Linked DNA regions of Homo sapiens. The protein of the gene in region 1 purifies or fractionates together with the protein of each later gene. This does not show direct contact. Each region holds a gene or a part of one and is shown on either strand. Other genes may lie near its edges.

Evidence for each region.
Region 2: the proteins of EPS15 (region 1) and AP2B1 purify together in Homo sapiens (affinity purification with mass spectrometry; 3 studies listed by BioGRID and IntAct, with this or other methods). This does not show direct contact.

Annotation. Positions count from the first base shown.
Region 1 is NC_000001.11:51,508,482-51,513,477, forward strand, and holds part of EPS15 (epidermal growth factor receptor substrate 15), read right to left. Parts: intron 1-4,996. UniProt on the Homo sapiens protein: Involved in cell growth regulation. May be involved in the regulation of mitogenic signals and control of cell proliferation. Involved in the internalization of ligand-inducible receptors of the receptor tyrosine kinase (RTK) type, in particular EGFR.
Region 2 is NC_000017.11:35,603,273-35,608,268, reverse strand, and holds part of AP2B1 (AP-2 complex subunit beta), read right to left. Parts: intron 2,565-4,996; coding exon 2,429-2,564; intron 128-2,428; coding exon 1-127. UniProt on the Homo sapiens protein: Component of the adaptor protein complex 2 (AP-2). Adaptor protein complexes function in protein transport via transport vesicles in different membrane traffic pathways.

The sequences.
Region 1 (4,996 bases):
GTATACATCATACATAAGCAAATGAAAGGGTTTAAGTAATTTGCCATGATCACTCAGAGATGTCACAAATGGCAGAGCTACAATTCAATCCAGGTTTGTCTTGTACTATATCCAGTGTTCTTCCCACTACGTAAAACTTCTCTCAGTGTCCCTGGGATGAGAATCTTGACACTCTGTTAAAATATATATATAAAATATTTTACCTACTGTTTTGGAGTAGATCACAGATCTTTTGAAGTCTATCCTTGAGTCCCCTTCCTATGCTCTATGGTCAAAGTTAAAAATTCTTCCTTTATTACAAAAAAAAGATAAAACAAGGAATCTCATAAGAAAATTGATGTTATATCCCACAATATGAACTCTATGCACCAAAATACAATTTAACTTGAATCAAATGTTCCTATAGATTTATGTTATCCTTTCAAGTACAGTTTAAATATCCTCTACAGTAACAACCCTGGATCCTATAAAACCATTAAATAATTAAAAACTATATTACCACCAAAAGTTTCATCATAATCACAGTATTCTCTCATGGCACCCCCTTGCCTTACTTCTATCATCCTTTATCACAGTACTTGTCACACAAGAAAGTCAGTGTTTATCTCCCTAAAAAACCAAAAGCTACTTCAGAGCAAATGTCATGGTCTTATTCTGTATGTCCAAGGCTTACTAGAGTAGTGACACACAGGAGGCATCTAGTAAATGTTTTCTGAAACAGAGGATCAACCATCAATACTGGAAGCACCTTTAATGCATATAATTTCATATTTTTTATATATGCATAATGCTATATCTATGTTGTACCTACAGAACAAAAGATGGAATGAAGTTATCAATAATCCTTAGTATAAATGATCCATCAAAATTCTAATTAAGTGCAACATTTCATAAAAATTAATGGCTCATATAACTAAAATCTATCAATTTACCTAAGACATTCTAACTTCAGAGCCCAAGATCTCTCTCATTATTTTATGCTAGTTCTCAAAAATGTTCATCTGAGGATCAGAAATCATTACAGCTAATGGTTCCAGGTTTTAGTCAATAAAAGTCTATTTTATAGGGAGTCTCTGATACATTTTATCTTTAGCAATACAATACTGTAGAAACTCCAAGTCCAAATAACCATGTCTGAGAGAATATTAGCTTAAAAGTAAATATTGGTATGATGTACACTAACCTAGACAAGCTTAGATTTTCATGAGCAATAAATCTGGAGGTTGCAAAATGAAAAACTACCTTCTACTATGTCTACAAAAACTTTCCACTATAACTTCGTGCAACAATCACTTTCTAGAGATGTGGTGTATGCAATGATAAGTTGATTTTCACATAGGAAGATGTAGTAGCCTACAACATATGTTCAGCTATAACCAAGGAATGGTACCACAATAAGCTCTGTCAGAGCCATTTTGCCCTTAAAAATGCAGACTCATTCAATCAATATCCGAGTTGCTTAGACTACTGGGTTACAATTCTGGCTCTACCACTTAGCAGCAGTTTGACCTTGAACAAATTACTTCACCTCTGTGTCCCAGTTTTTTATTTTGTTTTGTTTTTGTAAAACAGGGATATAAGGATTACCAAGTTGTAAAGAATACTGAAAGGTTCATCAGGTTGTAAAGATTATTGAAAATAGCACATGACACGTAAGTGTGCTCAGTAAGTATTATTGTTATTATCCCACTATTGACCTCCTCCCCAATACACACAAACACACGCACACACACACCACTGGATAATTTCTTTTACATAACAATAGAGGAATGTAAGATCACATGAATGTTCATTCTTATCCCAAAATTTGACTGAAATATCATCAATGACTATAGGAAGCAGCATAGCAAATGTACTTGGAGAACAGATGTGCCTGGGTTCAAGTCTCAACTCTCCCACTTAAAATACAACCGTGAGCAAGTAATACAGAAGATTAATGCCTACTTGTAGAAAGGCTATGAAGATTAAGTGAAATAATGTATGTAGATCATCTAAAAGTATTTAGTATTTATTAGGTGTTCTAGAAGCATCAGTCCTCTTCCTTCTCAACAGTGGCATAAGAATGTTTTCCTTCCAGGATCTCTGTATTGATACTTAGCCCACTAGATAGAACTGTTCCACAACTAAAAGAAGACCACACTAAGTTTCCAAACTACAGTGGAGCCGGAAGAGGGAGGAGATCACACTAAAAAAGGCACAGAAATCACACATAAAATTAAGTTCACAATTTCAGGTTGCCTTCTCATTTAAGTTTTTTAAGCTCAATATTTATGCACAAGGAGTCAATCATGGCTCATGGCAGGCTTAAGAATAAAAATATGAAGATAAACTCTTTCCCCTGTCCTCACCCCTAGAAAGTATATCTTGTATGTCCTAATGGACCACAGAAAGTATGTATCTAGGCCGGGCACGATGGCTCACGCCTGTAATCCCAAGCAATTTGGGAGGCTGAGGAGGGAGGATCACCTGAGGTCAGGAGTTCGAGACCAGCCTGGCCAACATGGTGAAACCCCGTCTCTACTAAAAACACAAAAATTAGCCAGGTGTGGCGGTGGGCGCCTATAATCCCAGCTACTTGGGAGGCTGAGGCAGGAGAATCATTTGAACTCGGGAGGCAGAGGTTACAGTGAGCCGAGATCACACCACTGCACTCCAGCCTGAGCGACAGAGCCAGACCTCCGCCTCAAAAAATAATAATAAATAAATAAGTATATATCTAAACCAGTGATTTGGCCGGGCGCAGTGGCTCACACTATAATCTCAATACTTTGGGAGGCCAAGGCAGGAGGATCACTTGAGGTCGGGAGATAGAGACCAGCCTGGAAAACATGGTGAAATCCATCTGTACTAAAAATACAAAAAAAATTAGCCAGGCGTGGTGATGCACGCCTGTAATCCCAGCTACTCGGGAGGCTGAGGCACGAGAATTGCTTGAACCCAGGGGTGGAGGTTGCAGTGAGCCAAGATCACACCACTGCACTCCAGCCTGGACGACAGAGCGAGACTCTCTCTCAAAAGTACTAAAACTTTAAAATAAAAATAAATAAATAAACCAGTGATTCTAAACCAGAGGCAATTTAATCCTCTAGGAAATATTTGTCAGTGTCTGGAGATATTTCTGATTGCTGCAACTGGTGAAGGTGTTACGTCTAATGGATAAGGATGCTGCAAAACACCCTACAATGCACAGAACAGCCTCCCACAACAAGAAATTCTCCAGCCCAAAATCTCAAAGTGCCAAGGCTGAGAAACCATGATCTAAAAAACTATAAAGTACTGTAATATAAACGTCTTCCTCCAAAAAATATGTTCTTATCCTAGCATTCTTGGTCAAATTTGTATTCTTATTGCAGATTTAGTAAGGAATAAGCAGTTTGATTATTTCAGATGAAAAACTCCTGGTACTGTTATATTCCCATTGTAATAATCCCCAGTTTAAAGGAGGGAGGAAGTGAGGCTTACTTTTCTTTGTATATTTTTACCACATAAAAACAAGTTTTAAAAAGAGCCCAACTTTTATTTTTTAATTGCACCTCTGATTCATTTGAAAGCCTTATTTATATCACAAAAATGAGTTTCTTCTACCTCATTTCTATCCTACTTTTGCACAAAATATTCAGAAGTTCACATTTATGTGATAGGAAAGCAGAGTATATGAGGCAGGGTACAAGGCCAGCTTTTAACAAATTGGGAAACTACAGGAGTAGCTAAAGAAAATAAGTCACCAGTTCATTTTGTAATCACAACATGCTTAAGAGGTCTCAATAATACCCAAGAAGTCTCAGTAGTTTATTTCTAATATGCAAATGAGTGCACTTAAGAGGTTAAGTAATTTGCCCAAGATCACAGAACTACTCAGGGGCAGAACAGGTGTGCTCTTGCAGTTATATTAGTCTGCCTCTGCTCCTGAAGTTTAAAAATCTAGATTTTGCAGAAGCTCTAAGAGAAAAGACTGACAAATTAAACATATAAAACAAATATTTCTACATAATCAAAAAATGCCAAAAACAAAAAAAAATTCAGAGAAAAAAATTTTGCAAAGGATTTTGCAAAGAAGGGCAAATTTCCTAAATATAAGAAGAGTTCTTACAAATCAGTGAGAAAGAAGACAAACAGCCCATCAAGAGAACAGGTAAAAGACTAAAGCAGTTTATAAAAAAAGAAATACAAATGGTTTCAAAGGAAAAAAAAATAAGTTCAGCCTTACCCATAAAGAAATAACAAACTAAAACAATGAAATTGTTTGAAATCTTTCTGATTACTGGACTGACAATAATATACATGTTGATCAAGCTGTGGAGGAAATGACACTCTCAAACATGTGTGCTGCTACAGTGTTTCTGAATGTAAATGAGCAATATCTTTTTTTTTTTTTTTTTTTTTTGGAGACAGGGTCTTAGCTCTGTCACCTAGGCTGGAGTGCAGTGGTGCAATTATAGCTCACTGTAACCTGCTAATCATAGCTCACCTGTAGCCTGCTAGGACTACGGGCACACACCACCATGCCCAGCTAATTAAAAAAAATTTTTTTTTTGTCCCAGATGGATTTCACTATGTTACCCAGGCCTTGAACTCTTGGCTTCAATCAATCCTTCCGCCTCAGCCTCCCAAAGCACTGGAATTATAGGCCTGAGCCACTATGCCTACCCCAAATTAGCAGTATCTATGCAGATTAAAAGTATCCTCTGGCCCAAAAATTACACCTACTAGAAATTAATCCATATGCTCACACATGTGCACAAAAACATGTAAAAGAGTATCCACTGCAGCATAGTTGTAACAAAAGATTGAAAACAAAATAAATGTCCAGCATTAGGTGGCCAGTAAAATAAATAACAGTAAGTTCACATATAGAAATACCCTGAGGTTTTGAAAACAATAAGGGAGATCTATATGTGATGTTATAGAGCAATCTCCTAAATCAGTTAAGCTAAAAATAATATAACAACAAACTGTGAAACAATAAACAGCTTACACAAAAGAATATACATATACA
Region 2 (4,996 bases), on another chromosome or scaffold:
AGGGATCCTCATCCTTCAAGCACTTGCGGAGCGGCTCACAGAGATATTCTGTAATTTTGTCTACCCGGATGCACCCCATGGTTCTGACTGCCAAGGCTCGAATCAAAGGATTAGGATCTTCACAGTCCTGCAGAAAACAATCACCAACAACTGTAGGTATACATGGTGGCTAAAAGTAAACAGTCCAGTTTATGTAAGCTGCAAAAGAATTACCTCATTAATTTAAGCTTCCAGATACATTCTACATGAGCTCCAATCTTCCATGCTATTCCTTTCCTAAGTACAAATCTTAGCTGCCCTATTTAAGAGTTTAGGTGAAGAAGTCATTTAACTGTTTTAAATACAAAATGAGAAACAGCTCAGCAGGATTCACTCTAGTGCCAGGCAGAGGTTTAGGGAGTTCGTACCATCCCACAGCCATTAGGATCTACCCTAAAAACAGGAAAAGCTTTTGGGCTTGTATTCCGGCACAGGAAAAAAAAAAAAAAAAAAAAGAGGAGCTGTAAAGACCGTGCCCTACTCCACAGTGAGTTCCTAAACATCAAATAGAAAAGAGAGCTAGATTTCTGTGGCCTGCAGCCAAGAAAACAAAGGGGAGCACAGGAGCTGGTCTGGGCTTGAAATAAGTACCTGGAGTTAAGCAGCAGAGAAGGCCCTCTGAGCTCTTGGCTAACATACATTCTCTTTTACTAGCAAGTGCTTCCAAATATAGTAAATAGAATATGGAGAAAGAACACTCTTTTAAACTGCCTTACACTAAAAAAATGTCTTTAAGCCCATGTAAATCTATGCACAACTCTAACTTCCAAAAAATGTAAACTAAATTCTTCCCAATGATATATTCCCTCTATGAACCACCAGTCATGGAGAACAAACTGTTACGTTCTGACTCTATAATGTAGCTAAACACAGGAAAAGAACAAAAAGTTCATGAGAAAGAAGAAAGCATATTGCTTATTTTTCAAAACATTTTAAATAGAAGCTAATTTTAGAAATGCTGTCTGTTTTTTTTAAATGTACACTAAGTTCCAAACAGAGAAAAAACAACTATTAAAAAAATATTAGGCTGGACATGGTGGCTCACGCCTGTAATCCCAGCACTTTGAGAGGCCAAGGTGGGCGGATCACCTGAGGTCAGGAGTTCGAGACCAGCCTGGCCAATATGGTGAAACCCCATCTCTACTAAATATACAAAATTAGCCAGGTGTGGTGGTGCATGCCTGTAATCCCAGCTACTCGGGAGGATGAGGCAGGAGAATCACTTGAGCCCGGGAGGCGGAGGTTGTGGTGAGCTGAGATTGCGCCATTGCACTCCAGCCCGGGCAACAAGAGTGAAATTCTGTCACCAAAAAAAAAAAAAAATTAATGGGAATGATCCCATTATTATTTTCTTTAAATCTATGATAGGAAAGATTTGACTGGATATTCAATAATAAGAAAATATTTTGTCCATTTTTAAAGACATGATGATATTGTGGTTATGTTTAAATAAAAGATCTTATCTTGACAAATATAAAGACAAAACTATTTAATATATGATGTTCAGGATTTCTTTAAAATTATCCAGCAGGAGAGGGGGTTGGAGGTCAGAAAATATGTATGAGGATTACAAACAAGAGTGGTTATGTGTCGGTAACTGTTAAAACTGCAAGACGGATATTTAGGAATTTATTATACTAGTCCTTTTTCTTGAATATGTTTAAAATTTTCCATTAAAAAAAATTAATCACGCCGGGAGTGGTGGCTTGTGTCCGTAACCCCAGCACTTTGTGAGGCTGAGGTGGGTGGATCACTTGAAGTTAGGAGCACGAGATCAGCCTGACCAACATGGTGAAACCCTGTCTCTACTAAAAATACAAAAATAAGCTGGGCATGGTGACGGTCACCTGTAATCCCAGCTACTTGGGAGACTGAGGCAGGAGAATCACTTGAACCTGGGAGGCAGAGGTTGCAGTGAGCCAAGATCGTGCCACTGCACTCCAGCCTCGGTGACAGAGTGAGACTCTGTATCAAAAAAAAAAAAAAATTAATCAAATGATGTAAGACGTATTAAATGAAATGAAAGTAGAAACTCCGGCAGTCTCCACTACTGCTGACTCATAAGTATAATTTCTACAAAGATAAAATAGGTAAAGCCCCCAATTACTGATAGTACAATGATATGCCCACCTTTGTCAGCCTCAGAAGGTAAAACAGTGGGGTTTCACCAGGTTTTCTTCTACCCATCTGGCAAGGATGCACCAAGCCCCACTAACAGAAAGCTCAGCACATGGTTTGAATTTCCCTGGATGACACACACTGGTATACAGAATGCTTAAAACATGAACATTCCTAGTCATTGCCAACACTTCCCTACACTCCTTCCTTGTGAACAGAGGTTACTTATTTGCAATTCAAACTCTGTTATTGAGGCCTTGGGAAAAGTTACCTTCACAAAGCTGTTTACAGCCATGATGGCCATGTCTGGCTGACTCTTGGCGTAGTTCATCAAGTAGAGATACACAAGCTTCTTTAGTTCCAGATTGTCAGTCTGCATACAGTTCACTACGTCTGGAAAGAGAGAACTGAGAAGAGAGGGTAAAAGAGAAAAGGAAAGTAAGCAGGTGTTGGTGCCAAGCTGTTGGACAGAACATGAATAGCCTTAACTAACAGTGATTTGATGCAAGAACAAATGTCCCCACAGTGGTAACTGTCACAGAAATGAATTACTAAAGAAACTGGCTGGGCACGGTGGCTCACGCCTATAATCCCAGCACTCTGGGAGGCCAAGGCAGGCGGATCACCTGAGGTCGGGAGTTTGAGACTAGCCTGACCAACATGGAGAAACCCCGTCTCTACTAAAAATACAAAAAATTAGCCAGGCATGGTGGTGCATGTCTGTAATCCCAGCTACTCAGGAGGCTGAGACAGGAGAATCGTTTGAACCTGGGAGGCAGAGTTTGCGGTGAGCTGAGATCACACCATTGCACTCCAGCCTGGGCAACAAGAGCGAGACTCCTGTGTCTAAAAAAAAAAGGAAAAAAAAAAAGAAAAGAAAAGAGAAAAGAAAAGAAAAGAAACTGTAGGCCAGACATGGTGGCTCAGGTATGCAATCTCAGAACTTTGGGAGGCTGGGGTGTAAGGATTCACTTGAGACCAGGTGTTCAAGGCCAGCCTGGACAACATGGCGAGATCCTCTCTACAAAAATTTGTTTTAAAAAGCTAGGTGTGGTGGTGCACACCTGTAGTCTTAGCTACTCAGAAGGCTGAAGCAGGAGGTCGAGACTGCAGTGAGCCATGATCACGTCACTGCACTCTAGCCTGGATGACAGAGTGAGACCTTGTCCCCATCCAAAAAAAACAAGAAAAAAATTGTAGTGCTGTTCTCAACAAGGTCTCTATAGTTTTAGAAAAAGCTTTTTATTATGAAAAAATGTTAATCCTAGTGCTGGGATTACATGCATAAGCCACTGTGCCCAGCTTCATCTATAATATTTTAATGTGTATCTTAAGAATCCTTTTTTTTCTTTTTGAGACAGAGTCTCACTCTGTCGCCCAGGCTGGAGTTCAGTGGCACCATCTTTGCTTCCTGCAACCACTGCCTCCCCAGTTCAAGCAATTCTAATGTGTCAGCCTCCTAAGTAGCTGAGATTACAGGCGTGCGCCACCACTCCCGGCTAATTTTTATATTTTTAGTAGAGATGGGGTTTCACCATGTTAGCCAGGCTAGTCCCGAACTCCTGACCTCAGGTGATCCACCTGCCTTGGCCTCCCAAAGTTCTGGGATTACAGATGTGAGCCACCACGCACAGGCAAGTGTCTTTTTTTTTTTCCACTACCTTTATCACATTCAAAAAAACACACAAAAACAAAAACAAAAAAGCCAGGCCCAGTGGCTCACGTCTGTAATCCAAGCACTTTGCGAGGCCATGGTGGGAGGACTGCTTGAGCCTAGGAGTGTGAGACCAGCCTGGGCAACATAGTGAGACCTCGTCTCTATAAATAATTTTAAAAATTAGCCAGGCATGGTGGTGTGCGCCTGTGGTCCCAGCTACTCAGGAAGCTGAGGTGGGAGGATCACTTGAGCCTGGGATGCGGAGGCTGCAGTGAGCCACGAACATGCCACTGCACACCAGCCTGAGGAACAGAGAGAGACCCCATCTCAAAAATAAAAATAAAAAATAACAATAATTATTTTAAAATATTTATTTTATGTACAAAAAGCTAACATGGTTTCTCTCATTGGGTGGGTGCCTTAGATAATCCATTCGTGGAAGATCACTTAGTCCAACTTAATGAAATCTATATCCTTCACGTATGATGGAAACACTGGTGGCATGTAACGAGGCTCAATTTCCAGATCAGACTGTGCCCAGTTTCAGCAGACACAATAGCAAGAACCCTGGCTGACTTTTCGCGGGTGGCTCCAGTAGAGCTGCTGGTGAATCATCTTGCTTTCAGGAGTGCGACAGGGCAAAAGGAACAATAATTCTTCATATCCATCTACTACAGTTTCAAAGCACTTCAGTTACGCTTTTTAAAGTTCATATTCTTCCAGTCTTGACCAGTGGGAACTGAGCTCCTGAATCCTTGTGATATGACCTGGTATTTTCCATACTTTCCTTTATGACAAGATGCCCCATCCAGGCTCATTTTGTACATTTCTAATTCCAGACCTAGAATCAGTCATCCTCCAAGATGTCCTGATTCCCTTTTAGTGAAATTATTTTTTTAACATTACATATTCAGACAAATGAAAATTTGAGAGTAATCAAATATAAAAGGAGTTTATACCTTTCCTAAGTTCTAGTTATTTCATGATTTACCATTCTCCTATAAGCCACAGGAAACAAATTTAAAGGAGCACCATTAGCTTGGAAGGGTTGAGCTTGTCAGATTCTAAAGTGTAAGCTGTATCTTTACAATATAGGATAACTGTAACTTTATGGGAAGTTAGCAATAAATCTTCCCCACAATGCTTTATCAAAGTACCTTATACATTTTTAATACTGCTAAA